Linked DNA regions of Homo sapiens. The protein of the gene in region 3 interacts with the protein of the main gene of each other region in a pairwise test. Each region holds a gene or a part of one and is shown on either strand. Other genes may lie near its edges.

Region 1 (7,770 bases), on a different chromosome or scaffold from region 3:
TGCAGCCAACCAGACCCTGAGGAGCCTCCTCTGCACTGCCGGGGGGCAGGCCTCCCACGTGGAGCTGCTTTACCTTCAGGCCCTGCAGCTCACTCCCCACCGCCATGGTGTCCTGGAGGAAGTGGGGCAGTCAGCACTGAGGGAGAGGGGCCTGATGAACCCCTGTCATAGCCCAGAGTCAGTCTTGGCCTTCTTCTAGCCCTTCTAGGCTGCCCCCTCCCTCCTGGACCCACAGTAGACCTTAATATTGCTTGATTTTGACCGGGGGTGGGTAGAGACTGGGGCAGAGACTAGAAGGGGCTTCTAGGAATCAGGCAAAGTGCTGGCTACAGAGGTTCCCCAAGACCAGGCCCCAAATCTGGCACAAAGAGGGCTTGAGAGTGGACCAACTTGGCTGGTGGGTGGGCTCAGTGCAAGGATATATGGTGGGGAACTAGGGGTAGAACATCAGACTCAGTGCAGTGGAGGGAACTGAGAGGAGCTGGACTAGAGGTGGGGTCAAATAAGGCGGATCTGGTTGGAAGGCTGAGAACAGACTACCCCGGGGTCAGAGGCCAGACCTGGAAGAGGCTAAAGTCCAGTGAGACCATAAGGACATGGTGGCCCCGCCGGCCACCTGGTTCCTCCTGCAACTCCAGCCGCAGATCGTGCCACCGGCCATCACTGACAGTCACCTGGTCCAGAAGGAGATGGGAAGCACGGCCCGAGCCCCTGGTCACTGTCACAGACAGTAACCCCCGATCTAGCTGTGGGCAGAGATGCATAGCCCTGGGGTTAGAGCCCCATGTGGGCTGGGACTTGGAGGTGAGATCAGAGGGCTCAGAGGTCAGGAATATCAGAGGTCAGAACAGTGGGGTCAAGGTTATACCTGGCACAAAGGGCACTGTGCCAGGGGACATCATGTTGCTGATATGGGGTCAGGGGGCAGAGGATAGGACCAGGTGTTGTGGGTGGGTTGGTGCAGCTTGCATAAGAGAGAGCTATGCTGGAGCCCTGCACCTGCAGAGGATATAATGATGGAAAGAGAATCAAGGGCTAGGGTCCAGAGCAGGGTCAAGTGTGGTTGGGACACCTGGCAGAAAAGTATGCTGTGTGACCAACCTGAACCCACAAGAATGTCAGTGGCGGCCTAAGAGACTGAGAACTGAGGGTATAGGGGTGAGCAGGGTGGACACACCTGGCAAAGGAGCGTGCTGTGTGGCCCAGCCTGCACTTGCATCAGGACCCCCTGCGTTGCCCGTGTCCGAAATGCCAGCCCCAGGTACCATGGCACAGACACAGCCATGTCACTTCCAAAGTTCCAGCTCAGTGTGCCGTTGCCACGGAAATGGTGGGGATGGGCCATAGCTGAGTGGATAAGAGAAACAGGGTTACAGCCCCTGCCCCAGGAACAGATCTGACCCTGCAGGCCCCTCTGCCCCATGCTGCCCACTTACTAAGCTGACAGTCTTTGCCGCCGAAGCCCACAGGGCAGTCGCAGCTGAAGCTGCCCCAGCGCTCCGAGCAGAAGCCACTGTTCTTGCAGGGGCCTGAGTCACAAAAGTGTAGCTTGGCTTGGCAGCCTGGGAGAGGAAAGCACATGGCGGACATGAGAACAAGGGTTGGGGGGCACAAGTGCTGGACAGGACTTTAGTGTCCAGAGGGGCTGAAAGAGACCAAGATCTCAGCCCCATTTCCCATTTTCTTTCGATGAGTGGGGTTGGTAAGAGTCAGGCCCTAAAATCTGGGCTGTAGCATGGTGCTTGCCACCAAAGGAGACTGGCTTGAAGTCAGGTATGGAGTCCTCCACTTCCTCCCTATGATGGGGACAGGGCCATGGGCTAGGCTGGTGGAAGCTTCAGGCCTACCTGCCATGGTGCCATTATTTGCGACAAAAGCCGCCATGTCCACTCGGCGGCCATCAATGTGCAGGTCCCGCATACAGCCGATGAAGTCCTTATGGGATACGGGGAAGTTCTCGGGGAGGTTGGGGACACCTCCCAGAAGAAGAGGGCCCGTCAGGTCCAGGGACCTGGGGATCAGGGGTCTGGGTCATTGGTGGGACTGGGGCCAGAGTAGAGTTGCTCCTGGGGGGCCACAGGAAGCAGGGGGGTAGGACCCAGAGGGTAGGGTGATTGAGGGAGGAAAATAAGGCCGAGCTGTGGAAGGAGTTAGGATCTTACTTCAGTTGGGGTGCAAAGGGGCACCCGTGATGGGCCGATGGTCTGGGGAAAGGTAGGTGAATGGGGGTTGAGAGCTATGATGAAAGAATGAGGCATCTGGCTGGCTGGGGAGGGGATGGAGACGTGAAGACTCTGGGGGACTGGACATGAGATGAAGGGACTCGGAGGGGATGTGGGACATTAGTGAGACTGGGGTGGGGAGGTGGAGGCTTTGGAGGACTGCCTGGGGACTGTGTGTGGGAGGAGGGAGTATGGGGTGGAATACAGGATTGGGGGCTAGGGTGAGTAGGCTTTCAGGGTCTTTGAGAGGAGAGGGGAATCTTGGTGGTTTGGGGGAAAGATGGGAGAGTTTGGCAGGATGGGATGAGGAATGGGATGTGAAGGGTTGGAGTGGGCTTTGGTAGGCAGGGGACAAGGGGACTAGGGGGCAGGGGCCTCACTTCTTGGAGCTTGTTTGCACACCAGCAGCCGCGCATGAGTAGTTGCCAATCTCAGCACCAAACTGCAGAGCCACGGCCACATCACAATCATCCACGCTTAGCACAGCCACCTTGTCCTTGGAGGGGCCCTGTGCACCCCCTAGGGCATCTGTCCGGGGCTGAAGACGCAGGCACACCAGTCAACAGTGCCCCCAGTAACCCCTGAGGAGCAGAAGTCAGCATCCCAACTCCCCTCATACCCGATGCCAGGGATGGCCCCCACCTTGTTGTAGTATCTCAGATGCACTGTATGCCATTGCCCGTCACTCAAGCCCCCTGGAACTGTGGGGCTGACCACGGTGTTGGATTCACCTGGAGGGGAGATGCATGTGGAATCATCAGGAGCAGCGGAGTCGCCCCATCCCACCCGTCATATAAGCACAACCATTCCCAGGGCCACCCTGGATGCATCAGATCAGTCCCCCCACTGGTGACCACAATGGCTGGCTCAGAGTGCCTTTGAACAGACAGGAGAAACAGACTTCTTGGAGGGAGGGACCTTCCCACAGGGAATGGCCAAGGAGCTAGGTCTTCAGGGCTTGCATGGCGTGGAGTGTGTGCTCAGGTGCACAGTGAAGCAAACCTGAGGGGACTTGGGCCCTGCGTCCTCCAGCACACACGCACCCTTTCGCCGTCACATCCGGGGCACCCACCCGTGGAATATGTGAGCCGCACTTGGCCAGCCACGAGTTCCAGGGCCAGGAAGTCGTGCTTCTCGTTCAGGCGCCCGTTGTAGAAGAGCAGCCCGCTCTGCTGCACTGTCGCGAACCTGGGCGGGGTGGGAGGGGGTTGCGGGGGTGGGAGCGTCAGGAGCAGGGTACCACTTCACACCCACCATCCCTGCGAGGAGAAGGGGCTGGGGCGAGAGAGGAAGCGACGAGGGACGGCGGGACCGACCGGGGGGACGCGGGTGCAGCGAGGTCAGGAGACCCCGGGCGGGGCGTCAGGGGAGGGGCGGTGTCTCATGGGGATGCCAGGACGGGGCAGTCAGGAATCTGAGTCAGGGCGGGTAGGTGGGGGCGGCGGGGAGGCGCTCAGACACGGGGCGGGCACCTACGAGAGGGACAGCGTAAGGTGGAATCGCTGCCGCAGGCCGCGAAACATGACGAACGAACTGGGCGGGAAGGAGCGCGCAGCCACCTCGCAGCGCGGGCCCTCGAAGGCGCCGCCTGCCGGGCACTGGCAGCGAAAGCCGCCGTTGGGCGCGTCGGTGCAGGTGCCCCCGTTGCGGCAGACGCCCGGCACGCAGCGGCCGGCCTCGGTGTCCAGCTCGCAGTCCTCTCCTGGGGGCCAAGCCGCGGTCAGAGGCGGTCACGCCCACGCCCGCCCCTGCTCCGGCCCCTTCAAAGACCGCGCGCCCAGAGGCCGGGTGCCAAGACCCCCGAAAGGTCGCCCTCTTCGGTGGACACGCCCCTTCCGTCTGGCCCCGCCCCCTCCCCAGTCTCATCGCTGCCTCGGCGGCGGCCCCTTCCGGCCACGCTCTACGGCTTCTGGCCTAAGCGCGTCCATACCAGGCCGTGGCCTCAGAAGTGACTCCCAGTACTCACTCGCATTGTGGTCCCGCCCCCAGCCTTGGCCCGTGCTTCCCCCAGCTCTGGCCCGGCGCCCTGCTCACCGGTGAAGCGCGGGCGGCAGACGCACGTGTAGCCTCCCTCGCGCCGCGCGCAGGCTCCGCCGTTGCGACATGGGTTGGAGTAGCAGAGGTCGAGCTCGGTCTCGCAAAAGTCTCCCGTGAATCCGGGCGGGCAGCGGCAGCGCAGGCCAGCGATGGGCTGGATGGGTCGGAACAGCGTGGAGGCCGAGGCCAGGAAGGGCGCGGACGAGTCAAAGCGGAGCACGGACACGCATTTCATGTAGTTCTCACAGGGCTCTCGCAGGCACACGTTGTCGTCGAAGGGCAGTACGTCGAGCAGGGAGCGAGCCGCCAGCGCCGCCCGGCGCACGTACAACTGCTCCTGCAGCTCCTCGGAGCTGAACCAGGGCCCTGCAGCGCCCGCCCCGGCCCCACGTGGAGCTAGCGCCGAGAAACTCACATTGAGCACGGTGCCCCCTACGTCTGTGTCGTTCTGGATGTTGAAGATGAAGACGTCCTCAGCGGGCGTAGCGAGCACCGCAGCCACGCCCTCGAGGAAGCGGCCCAGCAGCGGTGACAGGAAGCGCTCCTGCCACATGTTCTCAAGGCGCACGGTCAGGCTGTTGGCCAGCAACTCCTCCGTGATGATGACCACGCGCAGCACACACTGCGCCGTCACGCTGTGCAGGCCATCTGCAGGCGGGGGCAGGGGCAGTGGTCATCCTGGGGACAGTGGCCACCCCTCCCTGGGACACAAGAGGGCTGGGGCCAGCGATAGCCTAGGCCCCCAGAACCTCTAAGTCAGCAGGCTGACCCCACCAGGACACAAGGGAGTCTGGGGCTAGTGACCACCAGCTCCCCCAGCATCAAGGTGTCAAAAAGCTGCTGCTTCCTCCCCCAATCCCCAATACACGGAGGGGTCTGGGCCAAGGATCAAGCAACCCCACACAGTGCCCATGGGTTAGCAAGTCACTCCCGCAACAGCACTCAAGTACCCTAAGTACTCAGTAACCCACACTTCCCCAAGTTATCATGGTCAGCAGGCCACCCCAACTCAGGACACAGAGAGGAGCTAGGGCCACTGGCCACTCATTCCCAGCCACCTTTCCCTTCTCCCCTCCTCCAGCATAGCAGAACCAGCAAAACATCCCCCTCCAGAAAAGAAGGGTTCCAGATCAGGGATCACCTATCTCCTATTTTTGGTCAGCAAATTGCTCTTCCATGACACTAGAAGGGGCCCTGGCCCAGTGAAGACTCAATGCCATCCTCCAGAATCCTGGGTTATCAAGCTCCAGGGGGGTCTTGAACCCTGACATACACACACACACACACACACCAGCATTCTTGAGTTAGCAGCCTGCTCGCCACTCCAGACCTGGGTCCTGTGGTTTCACAGTGACCACCCCAGAGATGAAGGTGAGGTGCTTAGCTGCCTTGTTCGTCTTGTCCCCACACCCTAGCACATACTGGGTGGTCAATAAGGATAGACTGTTGAGTGAGTTGAGGGATAAATGAAGGTTGTGCCTTCTCAGGCAGTGCCAGGAGTCCCTGCTCCAGAACTGAGGAATGAGCACCAGTGAAGCCTATTTCCCAACCTCTGCAGCCTCCAGTAGGCAGAACTTCAAGAGCCTCTCCCACCTGCACTCTCCTATTATGGAGGGGTTTCTGAAAGACTGGAGCAGATGGGGCAGGAAAGAGGCAAGTGGACCTCTGGACATTTTCCCAAAGGTCAGGGTCTCAGGCCCTACGAAGCCACTGTCCACCTGAAGCTTCCATAGTAAGCTGCTGTTCCTGACCACTCAAGTATTGGTCATTTCCTGCACAGATAGGGTAAGCGTCAGACTGGACCCAAAGTAACCCTTCGTCTGAACATGGGCATAGTGTGGACTGACTGGCCCATACTGGCTTTGCCTAGGACCTCCAGAGGATTACCCCAGGACCTCTGACCTTTTATCAGGAGGGGAGATATCCCTAGGTAGCAGACAGTTCTTTACAGGCTTTATGGGGTCTGCTAGATGCCTTGGAATCACTGGGATTCTGTGGAGATTATCCAGGAACCTAAGCAGAGTCCTTGTGAGGTCTGTGGCAGATCTTGTAGGGTGCAGGAACCCTACCCTTAAGGGGTTCTTGGAAGGCTTAGAAATCCCTCTTTGGTTTGAGGTGCCCTGTGGAGTCCCTGAGGCCCAACAGGTTGGTGTCACTGGGTCACTTGCCTGCCCCCTGCCCCTCACCTGTGACAGTCACCAACATGGAGGCCACCAGTGGGCGGTTATTGTCTAGCTTTCGGCTGAGTCGCAGCTCCCCACTGGTCTGGTTGACTACCAGCAGCTGCAGCTCATTGCCACGCTCAAAGGAGTAGAAGAGGTGGTCGGAGACATCGGGGTCATAAGCTGGGATGCGCCCAATAATGCCCGACGGGAAGGTGTCTGAACGGTTGGATACATAGTTGTTGAAGAGGATCTGGAAGTTGTTGAGCACAGGGCTGTTGTCATTCTGGTCAACCAGGCGGACGTGCACAGTGGCCCGGCTGACCAAAGGAGCAGATGTGGCCTGCACCACAATCACATATTCTTGGCGAGCCTCATAGTCTAGGTCAATGAGTGCCGTCAGTTCTCCAGAGAAGATGTCCATTTGGAACAGCTCAGGGATGTTCCCCTCCACGATCTGGTACATTATATGGGCATTGGGGCCTTCGTCAGGGTCCACTGCAGTGATCTGGGCCACCACTGAGCCCACAATGCTATTCTCTTTCACCCGCACCTCAAACTCCTCAGCTGGGAAGACAGGTGCATTGTCGTTCACATCCTGCACCATCACCTGGATACTGACTGGAGTCCGGAGTGGGGGCACACCTCTGTCCACTGCGTAGGCAGTCAACTCATACACTGATACTGCCTCCCGGTCTAGCCGCCTTACTGTACGGACAATTCCAGAGGTGGGCTCAATGGTAAAATCTCCATCCCCATCTTCACCATTCTGGAAAGTGTACTGGACCCGGCCATTGGCATGAGCATCCCGGTCAGTGGCTGAGATCTGCAGGACACTGGTGAAAGGTGGGGCATCCTCAGAGACCAGCCCTGTATAGTGGGAGGCCACAAATTGTGGAGCATTGTCATTCACGTCATTGACCATCACCTCCACATAAGTAGTGTCTGCCTTCTGTGGGATGCCATTGTCCCGAGCTGTGATAGCCAGGGTGTAGGTCACCTGGTCCTCATAGTCTAATGGGGCCTGTAATGTAATGGCTCCTGAGTCTGCATCAATGCGGAACTGGGGCAGGTTGTCCTCCAGGAGATAGGTGATACGAGCATTCTCACCCACGTCATCATCAGAGGCACTGATGACCACTATGGTGCTACCCATTGGCCGATCTTCATTCACACTCACTGAGTAGTGGGCACTTTGAAAGACCGGCCGATGAGTGTTGGCATCTGTGATGTTGATGTGCACATAGCAGTGATCATGAAGGGCACGGTCAGATGCAGTTAGTACCAGCTTGAAGTAGCGTTCCTGCTTGTAGTCCAGTGGCAGAGCCAGAGTCACCAGACCCACACCC
Region 2 (7,770 bases), on a different chromosome or scaffold from region 3:
CCCGTGGAGGAAAAATATTCCTCATTTCATTTGAGCCAGGCTCCTAGCCTCTCTACTGAGTAAGGAGAAAAACCATCATCAGCTTCAAAGAACTAGCTTCTGACCACTTCCAACTTTGGACTTGTAGAAACCCATGGCCTTGAGCTTGTCCAGCTAGATTTCCTCTTGGGGCCCATATTTTTCAGGGCTCCAAGGCCTAAAACTTTTTTGAATAGAGTTTAAATTGAAAGAACTCCAGGCCAACATCTACACGACAGTCCTCAGTTCCAGTCACCTTTCTGATTTAGAGTGGGTACCTACCAGATAGGGGACATTAGAAACCCAACCCACCTCTACCCATACTGTTTCTGTTATTAGTGGAAGCATACATAAGCACCAGTTCATCCTCTGGGTGAGCCTCACATGACCACGCTAACTCCTTACATAGTTTCTGCTTGGATGGAATGTCCCATTTTGCAGAGCCTAAAATATGAATTAAGACTGTTACCTCCTCCGGAACTCATCTTGACTATGATCAGGCCCTCCCCGGAGCCCAGCTTGTCGGCAACTGCACTGATGACTTCCTTCACCGAAGTGGCCACTGGCACCCGAATGGTTGTGTAGGTGTGGTCCATGCAATAGACCTTAAACAGAACTATCCAAAGGCAGTAACAAGGTAGTAAATCACTCTTAAGAGTTTTCAATAAAACTATAGTTATGAAAAATGTTTAGGCATCCTCTCCAATTTGCATCATTTTGCCATTTTTGTTACTGTATTTATTCATACTCATTTACCCCTATTCCTGCCCCTTCTAAACTGCTTACCTTAGCATTGGTCTAAGAATAGGTGCACATATGGTTGCCAAGTCCAATTAAAAGAACAAGAGATATTGGTGAAAACCCCACAAAGAGGTCATGGGAAAAAATTGAGAGTATCTTCAGGCTGATGTTCAGGGTCTGAAGTGCTATACTGTAGGCAATTCACAGATCACTGCTACCCTGTGTGGCAGTGGGGAGACACCATTCACCTCTCTGCACACAGGAGGGCTTCCGCCTGGGCCATGAGCACGTGCTGACACTCCTGCTCACTTGCTTCAGTGGCTTGTGTGCTTTGGGGCCAGGCCATGTAAGCTCGGATGCTATTTAGCTCAGCAGACTTAGATCAGCAGATCTGGATATGGCACCCAGAGGCTCAACTCTGAACACAAAAATCCTGGGAGCAATTCCCATTATTATATTATAATTCCTGGGTTTAGAGGCAGTCCTAAATGACAAGATTTATTTATAGCTTTAAATGAAATTTTTATCATTATTATTGTGACTATTTTTGGTTGTGATTCTTTGGAGAATCTTAAATAACCAAACAAAAGCCAGCATCTTGATCTTCCTGATGTAAAGCCTCCCTGCTCAGGGCTGGGCTCAGGGCCAGAGCATTGTCCCTGGGCAGGATGCTGGTGATCCATTGTCTCCTTGGCACCCACTAGGCGCCAGCTACCTTCCCACCAGCTTTTCCCAGGGGTGGGCAATCCTGACAACCAGGCCCTGAGATCATCTTCATTTCCTCCAAGGAAAGGGGTTAAGCAGGGAGAGGCCAAATCAGGGAAAGGTAGACAGGCATCTCGGCTTCAGGCACAAGAGTTTAAGGACATAAATAATCGGGCCACCAAAGGGCACCTCCAAGCAAACCATCTGGAGGGCAACAGGGCATCTTCAAAAGAAGCTATTCTGTGGGTCCAAGGTGATGCTTACCATTATCCTGACTAAATAATCTATACAACTACGAGTTAGTTGGAAGAGGGTTCTCACCTTCATCAGAGCCGCGGATAGGCTGGCGCTTCTGGGCTCTCTCATCGCCCGTATTGAACTGTTGCAAAAGAACCTTGTGCTGTAAAAACAACCACAGCAAGTGCCATAAGGGACAGTGACCAATGCATGCTAGCATCTCAGAGAAGACACATCTGAGAAGCAAGCAGAGTCAAGAAATGAAGACAATATATTTCACGTCTACAAAAAAGAAATCACTTTTATGTATACTGCAATATAATATTTCTGGGGAATTGTAATTCTACAGGACACAGACAGAGAATGCAAGTTCATGCCACCTACCTTCTTTTGTGGTGCCTTTGCATCTTCTGAGCTACGAGAAGTAGAGAAAGCACATTATTTAATACCATTGCTACTATTAAATTGCCTTATTTGTATATAACTAATCTTATGTTAGAAAATGAAATCACAATCACAGAATCCTTTCAGGAGACAATATGAGCTTCCTCATTTTAATAGTAATAGATCAAAGCAGAAGGGTAGACAGCAAAGATATCAGCTCTTGTCACAGGCAGATTCCTGGCAGAACCGATGTTCAAAGCCAGGATTTCTAGCTTTCAAAGTCTATCTAGCAGCACACTCACTCTCTGATACTGCATTTAATCTATAGTTCAAGTAATAGCATGTGAAAACCTTCTGGTTCATTGAGAGGACACAAATATTCACCACCAACAGCTTTGGCAGCAGTTAGTGAATTTTCCATATAAGTAGTTGCCCTCAAACTTTCTTTAAATGCCGCTGGCCATTTTATTGCCAGATTCACTGCCTTGAACCTAAGGGACCCAGGTTTATTGAGTTGGACTCCACCCAGGAGGATCTTTTCTTTCCCAGGCTATCTTTTGGCAGCCCTCTAGCACAGAATGAACAGAATCTCAGTCCTTCTGTTCCTCTGGCCTTACTGCACCACCTATGCCCTCAGCCCAGTCTGCTTAAATCAAATCAAGCGGGGCATGGCTATGGAAAGACCAGCTTTAACCTTTCTTGTGGGCAAAGGACTTTTTGAGATTTACTTGATGAAAGCACACCCCCACAGTCAAGCCCTTCCTTACATTTGCTTGACAATCTTCTCCAACTCTGGCAGTTGCTCCTTGAGGGCAGCAATCATCCGGGCATCATCTGATACAGATACATAAAACTCCTGTAATTGGCAAAAGTCACAGGCTTTTAACAAGAACTGCAAAAGGCACATGATTCTGTCAAGAGCAATAAAGATGTGTCCCTATGTCATCTGCTTCACCAGCATCTCCAGACCATGGCTTCATGGACTGGAGGAAGAACAAAGAAGAAAATGTTACACTATGTCTAAGTTCAAAATTGGCCATGAGAAAAAATTTTGGAAATAGTGGCAATCAATGACTGCACGGATATCAGAAATGAAATGAATGCCACTGAACTATACACCTAAAAATGGTTACAATGGGAAAATTTATATTAGATATCTATTTTACAACAATAAAAATTCAATTCAAAGTAAATTGCAGGTGAACTGTTTATATGATATTTATATGAAAGCCAATGTTTTGAAATGGGTCATTTTGGAGTCCACAAAAGAGTGCTTTTTTTAGTTCATTTTTCTCAGGGGAATTTTAATGTTCGTTTTCACATTATTTTGGTATGTATTGTTTATTGACTAGGTGTCACTCATTCTGGGTCATGGTTGGTGGTAAGATGCAGCATGGTCTTCAGCACTGTAGCGAATTTATGATGAGTTTGTGCCACCAACTCAGGACTCTCTGATGCCCTTCTGGGAACTGTCCTGACCCTGCAGCTGTAGGTGTGCCTGCTCTGCAGCAGAAGGTGAGAACCATGGCAGTGCCAGCTACACCACCACTTTAGTTCATCTACAAAATGGTCCTGTACTCAGCGGGTAGAGGCCATGAGTCAATGTATGACCCCAAGCTACCGCCATTCCTCGCATTTTCAAAATACTTCATTCCTCAGCTTGGAGGGATGCTCTCGGTCCATCTTTCCTCACTGCCTCGCACCTCTGGCTGTGAAATGATATGAATAGAAAGGAGAGACGGTGTATGTTTCTTTTGGATAATTTATAATTTTAGAACACAGACTGAAAAAGTTTGAAACGGAAGTAACATTGCCTTTTGCCTGAACAGAAGTCAGGTCTTCATCCAAATTTTGGAGGGGAGAGCGACTAATTGAGCTTAAATGTCAGAATCAGTGCTGTAATTTGGGGCTAGAGCTACGGGAAGGAACGGGGAAGTGCAGCTTTCAACAGTGTTTATGAACCACTTTCACAGCCTACCATTTCCAGTTCTAGCAATTCCTAAATAAATGATCTGCTCCACTCCACTCAAAAATATCTACCATTTGATCTAGTAATCCCATTTCTAGGAAGGTAATCAAGGACAGAATCACTTGCACAAGACTTTTTACCGTACTACTATTCTAGGAAGGTGAAAACTGGAAATGATGTGAACACTCAACAATAAGGGAACACATAAATATATCTGTGACATGGCTACTCAATGGTCATTAGATATTTTTTTGATTACTTCAGGAGATGTAAATAAATTTTTATTATAAGGACTGTACTGACAGAAAAATCCTTATATCAAATAAATGGAAAAAGCAGCCTGCAGAATGATGGGTGCTACGTGACTACAAGATAAAACATACAAAGAAAAAGAGACTAGATGAAAATACATGAAAATGCTACCCATTAGGGAGTCAGAATGGCAGAATAATGGGTAAATTTTTTCCTTACTTTTTCTGTAGTTCCTTTCTGATGAATGAATGTGTTCACAAAGTCTAGCATTTGCAATTACGGTCTCTCCAGGGAAGCTGCTGAGCCTATAAGTAGGTCCCTGTATTGCAGGACAACAGTATATTCTTGGAAGAGATGACCCCTGCCTACCTCCAGGAAGGCCATAGACACGTCATCCTCTTGCAGGAGGTCTCCATACATGGCAGCCCACTGTAGAACCAGGCGGATGACTCGCCTCTTATTGTTGAGGGCATAATCCATTTTCTCCTGTTCTGTACCTTGTGAAGGCTGTGCGTGGTAGGTGCCGAGGAGTCAAGGAAGAAATTGAGCCATTTCACACTCATTTCACATGCTACTTTCAAAGGTAAAGAGTGACAGATCCCAGCTTCAGAAAGCCAGGCTTTTAGATGGATAGAATTCCTCCCCTAGGCCCTCATGAAAAACCCCACAGAAAGTGTCTGTGCCGAATGCATGCAATTCCTTGTTTACTCCTGCTGACTCTGGCCTGATAGTTGCCCAAGGGATTAGACTTTCACAGACTCCTCCTGGACTTGGTGTGGACAAGGATTCTTGTGTCTAGCTCTAGCTGTCATTCTCTGCCAGGATCTGCCTTGCCCTTTGCTACTCTGGGTGGTAATGTTTCTTGCCATTGCTTCTCTCTGGGTGCATTTCCACCCGTTGTTGGTTTCCAAAATTCTGCCCGAATCTCTGTAATCCCCTTTGTTACATGCATTTCAGTAAAACTGAATGCCCAGCAGGGCATCTAGTCCTGCTGGGACCATGGCTGATACAAAGAGTGCATGGGTGGGCAAGAGAGGCTGGAGGTAGATAAACTCACCCAGAGGTAGGAAGAGGAAAGGCTCCTGCTGTACCAATTCTCTGGTGAGGGCCTCAGACACATTTTTACACCATATCTTCTTCTCTTGTGTAGAACCATGACTTACCTTACTGGCTCTTTGCACATTTATGGCTACCATCTTAATTGTAAGCACCTTGAGGCTTGGGATGATGGTCATTTGTCCTGTATTCTACACTACGCCTAGGATACTGACTTTCACCCAGAAACTGTATTTATTCATTAATGCAACAAGTACTGATTGAGAGTCTCCTATGTGCCAAGAGTAAAGGTCCCTGGTCCATTCTTGTATGCTCTACAGGAGGCACAACATCACAGGTAATCAAGAAATATTTTAGGTTAGACACACCATTCCTTTTTCAATGATTTATAGTTCATATTATAGATAATTAGTTCATAAAACAACTTACTCTTCACTATTTACAATATAACTTGCACACAAAGTACTTCACTTCAACTCCACTTTATAGCCTTGTGATGAAAGTGTCGCTCCATTTCTATAAGTGAACAAACTGAAACTAAAGAAGCATAAATGGCCAGGATTACAGAGTGAGAGTGCAGAGGTTGCGAATGCAAGACTCCTGATGCCAACTAGTGTTCTTCCCATTACCCAAAGCCCCCATTCCTCACAGCGAGCTACAAGACTGGCCCTGTCTTAGCTTCCTACCCTGCCTTGAAAGACGTAGAAAACTGGCTTGTGACAGTGCTGTGCTTGAGAGCTAAACCAGTAAAGAGCCTTGTCTAAAAGGACTATAAATAATCATGATCAAGGTAAATGACAGAACTTTAAGGCAAAGGTTTACTGCATGTAAATGGGTTGCAAAATGGCTTTCATAAATTGAGCACGAGATTCATAAAAAAGAAAATTGCTCAACCTGTATTGCTACAATCCTCTCTCAGCTCACAATGAAGAAAGGAAGAAAGATCGCTTTATGTGAAAATTATTTCTTTTCTGATTAACTCTTTGGTCTCTTGCTTGCATGCATTTATAACTGAGTTTTTCTTTCCAAAGAGTTGCAATGCTGGACATTATATTTTATGACCATTTTTTAATGGCACGTAGGAGCATAGTCAGATGCATGGTAGGTACCAAATAGGAAAGTCTTGACTGATTGAAAAATATGTACTGGTTCACCCGAGAGTGGGAGGATCTGGGTTCAAGTCCTCTAGCTGCCACCATTTAGCTATGTGATATTGTGTAAGTCACTTAGCCACTGTAGACTTCCATTTACTCTCCATGAAATGAGGAGGTGAGAAGAAATCATTTCCAAATTCTCTTTCAGCTACCGCATTTAATAACGCTAAGGCAAGGTGAACCGAAGGAGAATCAGATAGGTGCCACAAACTAACATAATGAAAATACAATGCTACGTTGCCACTGTGCTTTCTTTGGTTTAGTTTTATGGTATCTTGTGTTTGTGCAGAAACTTGGATGACATCAGGCTTTGGCAGGTGCTATCTTTTTCATTTCCATGGCATAGGAGCCAAATGGAGAAAGTAAGAATGGCCAAGGTGGGGAGTAGGGGTGTGGGCTGAGGAATGCCAACCCCTATAAATGTAAGAGTCAGTGGAGATTCTGAATTCTGAGTACGGTATGTGTCAAAGCTCCCATTAGGCTGGGCTCGCTCCCTAGACTGCTGTCCCAAATATCCTGATGCCACTATGGACCATGCGTGTTCCTCACCGGGTACCTGAGGCTAGGCTTCTTCCCTCTAGTCCCTCTTCTAAGTCTAAGTGATAGTGCCTGTGAAAGACAACCTTTCTGATGGCCTTGTACTGTGAAAAATGAGCAAATTTAATTCTCTCTCAGATCATGCCAATTTAAAAGAATGTCACACTGTGCCCTAAGTTACTCTATAAACTACAATCTTAAAAATATTTCACTACACATGCAACATGAGCATATTTTGAATCACTCAAAGATGGAAACAGCATAGAGAGGAAAGGGAAGCTTTTACTGAGCTGGTAGTAATAGAGTGGTGAACACTTAGCCTCAATTTAGAAAAATAACCCCAAGATAGGACAATTAAGGTGCTAATGTGGTTTTTTTTTTTTTGAGACGGAGTCTGCTAATGTGGTTTTTAAGAAATAAATATATTTTCAAATGAATTAATATGCTTTTCAGAGAAAATACATCAAAATGCTTTACAAGTACTTAGGCAAAGAAACTATTCAAATTGATCCAATTGATTCACTAATTATTAATTAACCGACTACTTTGAGTAAAGCACCATGCTAGGTTCTGGTGATACAATGGGCACAGTCCTATTCATCTGAAATATTACATTGGACAACATGTTGGAAAGGAGGTATTCACATGTGTAAGAGAGAAAGGAGGAGTGGGGGGAGAGAGAGAGAGAGGAAAGATTCTTTCCTACTTGTTATGATA
Region 3 (7,770 bases):
CAGGTGCAGTGGCTCAAGCCTGTAATCCCAGCACTTTGGGAGGCCGAGGCGGGTGGATCACGAGGTCAGGAGATCAAGACCATCCCGGCTAACACGGTTAAACCCCGTCTCTACTAAAAATACAAAAAATTAGCTGGGCGTGGTGGCAGGCGCCTGTAGTCCCAGCTGCTCAGGAGGCTGAGGCAGGAGAATGGCTTGAACCTGGGAGGCAGAGCTTGCAGTGAGCCGAGATCACGCCACTACACTCCAGTCTGGGTGACAGAGCGAGACTCCGTCTCAAAAAAAAAAAAAAAATTACAAGATCTACGTGTTTCAAGCTAAAGTTCTTGTCTTTCATTTAAACAATTTACTATAAAAAGTTTCTCTTTTTTTTTAAGACACTGTCTTTTTAAGAGACTGACAGAGAAAGAACTATCCATTAAAAGAATAATGAGATTCCAAATATTCCACGAATGATCGGCTGTTGCTTTAAGAAAGGAGTGAGCAAACAAATTTACAAGAAAAAAAGAAACAACCCCATCAAAAAGTGGGCGAAGGACATGAACAGACACTTCTCAAAAGAAGACATTTATGCAGCCAAAAAACACATGAAAAAATGCTCACCATCACTGGCCATCAGAGAAATGCAAATCAAAACCACAATGAGATACCATCTCACACCAGTTAGAATGGCAATCATTAAAAAGTCAGGAAACAACAGGTGCTAGAGAGGATGTGGAGAAATAGGAACACTTTTACACTGTTGGTGGGACTGTAAACTAGTTCAACCTTTGTGGAAGTCAGTGTGGCGATTCCTCAGGGATCTAGAATTAGAAATACCATTTGACCCAGCCATCCCATTACTGGGTATATACCCAAAGGATTATAAATCATGCTGCTATAAAGACACATGCACAAGTATGTTTATTGCGGCATTATTCACAATAGCAAAGACTTGGAATCAACCCAAATGTCCAACAATGATAGACTGGATGAAGAAAATGTGGCACATATACACCATGGAATACTATGCAGCCATAAAAAAGGATGAGTTCATGTCCTTTGTAGGGACATGGATGAAATTGGAAATCATCATTCTCAGTAAACTATCGCAAGAACAAAAAACCAAACACCGCATATTCTCACTCATAGGTGGGAACTGAACAATGAGAACACTTGGACACAGGAAGGGGAACATCACACACCGGGGCCTGTTGTGGGGTGGGGGGAGGGGGGAGGGATAGCATTAGGAGATATACCTAATGCTAAATGACGAGTTAATGGGTGTAGCACACCAGCATGGCACATGTATACATATGTAACAAACCTGCACATTGTGCACATGTACCCTAAAACTTAAAGTATAATAATAATAAAATTAAAAAAAAAAAAAAAGGAGTGAGAAGAGTTAACTGAGCAGCCTTTTACACAGGCCCTTGGCGTAAGATTATGTGCATTTCATTAGTGCCAGTTTTCCAACCCAACTCCAGGATGACTTCCCTTGATTTTTCTATCCAGAAAGGCCTATCCTGAGGAGCAAAGAACAAACCCTCTCTGCCAATCTGACAGAAAGTCCCTCTGAATCAGCCACAGCCTTCAGTGACTTCAGGAAAGAGGAACACATTTCACTTAAAAATGACCACTAGGCCGGGCGTGGTGGCTCATGCCTGTAATCCCAGCACTTTGGGAGACCGAGACAGGCGGATCACAAGGTCAGGAGATGGAGTCCATCCTGGCCAACATGGCAAAACCCCATCTCTACTAAAAATACAAAAATTAGCCAGGTGTGGTGGTGCGCGCCTGTACTCCCAGCTACTCGGGAGGCTGAGGCAGGAGAGTCGCTTGAACCCAGGAGGCGGAGATTGCAGTGAGCCGAGATCACGCCACTGCACTCCAGCCTGATAACAGAGCAAGACTCCATCTCAGAAAAAAAAAGGGAGCAGGGGGGCAAATTTGTCCATTTCAGGTTCCAAAAACTAAGAGAAAAAAAAATTTAGAATAATAAAATAATTATATTCATAAAATGCCCTTTGCACATTAAGAAAAAGTTAAATTTGTGTGCAGTACTTTCAGCATATTGGATCAGAGCTGTATGTAGAAGTTACATCTGGATTCAAAAGGTTGAAACCATTTTGCTATTGCTTAAATCAGAGTGTGCAAAATAATTAGCTGGAGTTTTTTGCCGTTGTTGTTTTGTGTTTTTTTTGAGACAGGGTCTCATTCTGTCCCCCAGGCTGTAGTACAGTGGTGCAAATGCAGCTCACTGCAGCCTCAACCTCCTGGACTCAAGTGATCCTCCTGCCTCAGCCTCCCAAGTAGACTTTTTTTTTTTTTTTTTTTTAAAGATGAGGTTTCACCATGTTGCTCAGGCTGGTCATAAACTCCTGGGTTCAAGTGATCCTCCAGCCTCGGCCTCCCAAAGTGTGGTGGGTGAGCCACACTTTGTGGTGTATTTTTCAGAAGCTTTGTGAGGTGATTCTGATACATAACATTGGTTAAAAAACCACTGGCTTCAATTATCCAAAATTATCCCTTATTCAAAATATCACTCATTCTATAAACACTAAATAACTAAGACTAGTATTTCTAGAATTATCTGGTTCCCTCTGTGATCTAGTCTCTGCTGTGTCATAATCAACTTCCCACAAAACTGCAGTAATACATATAGCATATTTCACCTGCGAATTCTTTGCACAAAAACAATCTATTAACTCTCAACACGGCTCAAATTATGAGGTGGCTCAAAAAATGTTGAGTGTCATGTAGAACGTCACTCTGGACGTCACATGGCACTCAAACATTCCCGTAGAGTGACTCTTCTGCTAAAATCACTGCCGAGTGGCACTGGAGGGGAGTTCCAAGAACCTGATTAACCTCACAGTGCAGTGAATGTGCACCTGTGGGGCCTATATATGCCTGGCAATATGCTACATGCTTAATTTTCTATTTAGAAAATAATTTTTCCTTAAAAAAATTTAAATTTAAAATCTAAATGTCCAAAACAATTTATTTATTTTTGAAGTCACTTTTGGCAAAATATACAACTAAAGATGGCTTCTTCTTTCTCTTCCTATCTAAAGATTAAAGAAACATCTTTTGCTGCTCCACATGTAAAATGGCAGCCATGGAAAATCTACCCTAGCTCATCTCATAACTGCTCCCCAAAACAGGGGGTCAGAGATCAAAGACTGGACCCTGTGCTGCTACTGTAGTGAATACTTTTTAGTGTTGTCTCCCATCCCAGACACCTTAAATAATGTAAATGGGGCAGCAAAGTAGAAACTGGCAGAGGATAGGCTCAATTTTTCCCTTTGGGAGTCTTCATTTTATTTTGTCCTCCCTGCTGCCATGAAGGCCCAAAATTGAGAATTTTCATCTGCGAACATGACTATCATAAAGTTCTAAGGGGAAAAAAAATCTAGGTTTCAAATACTTTTAAAATTAGGATTTCAAGTAGTAATTACTGAAGGAATGTTACCAATCCTGAATGACCAAATAGAAACTGCATATTTCTTCCTTATTCCTCAAAACCTGACGGCAACGTTGGCCTGAACAGGCCTCTGCCTGCATACCAATGGCCCTCTCTGGTCTGGAGCGTGTTGAAGATGCCAAGCTCTTATCAGAGGTAATTCTGGGTTTGTGGATTTTCTCGAATAAGACTAAGGGTACCTCATCAAACATACCTACCAGACTGCTCTAAAATAGGCCCTTATTTAGCCCCAGAAGCAAGGGTTTCCCAGCGCCTCAGAATGAAAAGAAACACTCCAGCCGGTCGAGTCTCCACAGTCTTTCTAATCTGGACAGCACCTCGAGCTCAGTCACAGCCAGAGCAGAGACACTTCTCCCTCTCCACCAGAGTGTTAGTCATTCCAAGAAACTGTATTAGCCCAGGCAAAGTACATAAAGGCAAAGTCTGCAAACAAATCTGGCACCTGGCCTGAAGCTTCCGCACTGTCTCTTCATCTTGCCGGGCCTGTCTCTCATCTTCAAGAGCCTCCTGCAGCTTTAGGTACATGTCTTCCAGCTCCCGTACTCGCTGTAAATACTGTTCCAGTTCAGAGGACTTTTGAGCAACCTGTTCTTCCATCTGCTGTCTGATCTGTTGGTATAAAAGGGTCTTGTTTAAATGCAGGTTGACTTCTTTCTCAGGGAAAGCCTCACCTCCACCTGAGGGGTTGCCCACAGCTGCAGCCTCAGCCCATCAGGGTGGCAGGACCCTGTCCTTCAATCCTTGAACTTAAAGATGGAGGAGATGAGGGTACCACACCCAATCGCAATAGTGAAAGAGTCTGGGAAGAGCAAATTATAACCCAAATTATGTTCTGCCCTGCTGTATTTTCCATCCCTTCCACTCCACATTTTAAGACTCAAGTCAAGAAAAAAATGTTTCCTTGTGTAATTTCTCTCTAAATTCCTTTCTGTCTTAAAGTCACAATCTTTTTACCAATAGGGTCTTCTCTAAAAGGAACGAACCTTTTCCCAGTCAGAGCAAACGAACCTTTTCCCAGTCTTCTTTAGTGTTACACTAAAGAAGAAGGAAAGGTCATCCAGCATGGGATTCCTCCCACACTTCCCTGGCTGTCTCCACTCCCTGGGGCACCTCCAGCCCTAGAGGAACTCAAGCATTTCAGTTAATCTGTATACGTTAATGGTTTTTCCCTTCTGGATTACAGAGTTTTGAATCCCTGCCTTAAAAATTACAAGACAAGAACATCCTAAATATAACAAACACATTAGCCTATTTCTCTGCAGTTGATAAAATATTTTCACTTGCATTAGCTCACTCTGTCTTCAGAAGAGTCATGAGAGAGCATGTGATAATCCTGAACTTAAAGAAGAAAAAGCCAATGTTCAGTAAGAAGGACCAGAGAGGAAACAAGACCAGACATTCTGGCTGTTTCTCTACATCACATTTGCCTTCCTCTTTTCTCTGAACCACAAACACATCTCTTTCAACTCTAAATAACAAAAAGTGACTAGAGGAAATGTCACATGCATCTATTTAGGCACTGGGCTTAGCACTCTCTGACAGAGTATCACTCAATGTGAGAAGACCTGTGTTCCAGCTAACCAGCTAACTACCTAAGACAACCTGGATCTTGGGTCTCTTGAAGATGGAAGCCTCTAGGATGAACCGGAGCTGCCAAGAGCAACAAATCAGACTCTAGATGTTCTCACAATTTCAGGATCTCACCCCCGCCATCCTTGCTTATTACAGAGGAGATATACCATGGAACCTATGCTTACTTTTTCCATAACTATTTATTTTCCAAATCAGAACTGTTTTGAGAATGAAAAGGAATGTTATTAATAATTATACCAGAATGGCAGGGACTCTCCCAGGCAAACCAGGAAATATAGTCACCCTAACCAAGCATTTATCACATCATTCCACAAATTTCTTTTTTTTTCTTTTTTGGAGACAGGGCCTTGCTCTGTCACCCAGGCTGGAGTGCAGTGGCAAAATCACAGCTCACAGTAGCCTTGAACTCCTGGGCTCAAGCAATCCTCCCACCTCAGCCTCCTAAGTAGCTGGAACTACAGGCATGTACCAACAGGCCTGGCTAATTCTTTTTTTTTTTTTTTTTTTTGTAGATATTGCCCAGGCTGGTCTTGAACTCCTGGGCTCAAGCAATTCTCATGCCTTGGCCTCCCAAAGTGCTGGGATTACAGGAGTGGGCCACCATGCCTGGCTCCATAAATTTCCACTTAGGAGTCTTGAAAACAAGGTTTATGTCTTTTGCCATTACATCTTTGGCACACTGCCTGGCACATAGAAGGTGTTCAATAAACAGATAATTAATGAATGAACAAACATGCAACTTCCCCTACAGCCCATTCCAGGTCAGTAGCAAAGCCAAGCTGATGACATGCCTCACTGTAGCCTCCAGCCCTTCCCTGTTCCCACCGACCCAGGCTGAGCTACTGCAGCTGCTTTCTCCAGCCATGTGATACTCACAAGCTTCTCTCTTTCCAGCTCTGTGCTGAACCTGGCCTGAAGTTCCACTTGAGTCTGAAGGCGTTTCTTTTCCTCTTCTGCTGCACGAGATGCTGCTTCCTCCAGTTTCTAGCCAATCAAAAACCCATCCACAGAAAAGCAGGTGTTAGAGTAGAAGTACATTAAAGAGAGAGAGACAGTCATACTTAAGTACAGGAAAAGCCAAACATTCTTAACATTCAATAAAGATAATAGAATAAAAACTTTTAGCTCCATTAGAATTCCAGTCTAACGATCTGCTGAATCAACATACAAAATAAATTAGGTAAATGAAAGACTATTGATAAGCCTGAACAACATTTTGCAAAGAAAGTTTTAGTACAGTCATTGAATTAAATTCACTTGGGATTGCATTCATGAGATTTTTATTTATTTATTTATTTATTTGAGACTGAGTCTTGCTCTGTCGCCAGGCTGGAGTGCAGTGGCACGATCTCGGCTCACTGCAACCTCCACCTCCCAGGTTCAAGTGATTCTCCTGCCTCAGCCTCCCGAGTAGCCGGGACTACAGGCACACACCACCACATCCAGCTAATTTTTGTATTTTTAGTAGACACGGGGTTTCATCATGTTGGCCAGGATAGTGTCGATCTCTTGACCTCGTGATCCGCCCACCTCAGCCTCCCGAAGTGCTGGGATTACAGGTGTAAGCCACCATGCCCAGCCACATTCATGAGATTTGAGAGCTATTTCTTGAGCTCTTTCTGTACAGTTTTTTCATCTTATACATTATTCATTATAACTTTTACCAGAACCAATTTCTAGAAGGGTGGCATAAGGAGCTCCACAGACCCTTTCCCCAACAAAACAACCATAACTGGTGAAAATTATTGTTAAAAAAACAAAACCTTTAAAAGTCTCTAGAAATTATGCTAAGGACATTCTAAAATGGAGAACATTTATCTAAGAAAATCTAACTCTCAGTAAGAATCGTGAGGGTCTGTGGCATATGATGCACTCCCTCCCCACCCCCACAGTGTCAGTGAGAAGAAAGCTCTTCTCCTGGCAGATGGAACCCCAAACAAGGGTTCCCCTCCCCTCAGCTCAAGCCTAGGGCTATGATACCTTCCTGGGAGGGGCAGGCTGGCTGCCAGAATTTCTCTTTGTCCCCAGCTGCATGTTGCAGAAACTTTATTCCAGGCAAGAGTGGCTGAGAATTAAGAGGAGGCCAGAAGCTCCATGAGAACAACACACTAACACACGGACCAGCTAAAAGTGTTGTTGGTTTGTTGGTTGACTGCTATGAGGTCTCGCTATGTTGCCCAGGCTGGTCTCAAATTCCTGGCCTCAAGTGATCCTCCCACCCTGTCCTCCCAAAGTGATTAACAGGTGTGAGCCACTGCTCTTCCAGACCAGCCAAACGTCTGACAGACAGAACCAGAGAAAGAGACAGCTAAGAAGAGTTCTCATGTAGTAGGAACAAGTCTCAAAGACTGACCTTAAAGACTACATGTAGGCCTGAATTTAAATGATCTCAGACTGTGAGGCAATTCAGGTTCCAGGGCATTATGGAGAACAACAGAACAAAATTAGTGAACTCTAACAGCTGTTGGTGTGGTACCAACAGAGGTGGAAAGCTTAAATGAGAGATCAGAGAAAGACACTCAAAGAGAGCCCTGCAAAAATCAGGGTCTTCGCAGGGTGACTGTGTTCCTGTCCAAGCCTGTGCCTCTGAGGAGCAACAGTCAGAAGCTTCACACTGTGAGGAAAACAAACTTCACTGAAATAGTCCAGCCAAGTCACTAAACAAATAAAGGAGCAAACAACAGCAGGCCTCTGGGGAGAGGGGTGGA

Evidence for each region.
Region 1: the proteins of SWAP70 (region 3) and CELSR3 interact in a two-hybrid assay, tested with the Homo sapiens proteins (one study listed by BioGRID and IntAct).
Region 2: the proteins of SWAP70 (region 3) and RAPGEF4 interact in a two-hybrid assay, tested with the Homo sapiens proteins (2 studies listed by BioGRID and IntAct).

Annotation. Positions count from the first base shown.
Region 1 is NC_000003.12:48,652,442-48,660,211, forward strand, and holds part of CELSR3 (cadherin EGF LAG seven-pass G-type receptor 3 precursor), read right to left. Parts: coding exon 6,446-7,770; intron 4,908-6,445; coding exon 4,257-4,907; intron 3,925-4,256; coding exon 3,699-3,924; intron 3,411-3,698; coding exon 3,295-3,410; intron 2,954-3,294; coding exon 2,865-2,953; intron 2,761-2,864; coding exon 2,603-2,760; intron 2,012-2,602; coding exon 1,848-2,011; intron 1,563-1,847; coding exon 1,437-1,562; intron 1,348-1,436; coding exon 1,178-1,347; intron 747-1,177; coding exon 561-746; intron 113-560; coding exon 1-112. UniProt on the Homo sapiens protein: Receptor that may have an important role in cell/cell signaling during nervous system formation.
Region 2 is NC_000002.12:173,011,520-173,019,289, reverse strand, and holds part of RAPGEF4 (rap guanine nucleotide exchange factor 4), read right to left. Parts: intron 4,827-7,770; coding exon 4,676-4,826; intron 2,942-4,675; coding exon 2,853-2,941; intron 2,117-2,852; coding exon 2,086-2,116; intron 1,865-2,085; coding exon 1,786-1,864; intron 635-1,785; coding exon 488-634; intron 1-487.
Region 3 is NC_000011.10:9,736,489-9,744,258, reverse strand, and holds part of SWAP70 (switch-associated protein 70), read right to left. Parts: intron 6,047-7,770; coding exon 5,939-6,046; intron 4,079-5,938; coding exon 3,912-4,078; intron 1-3,911.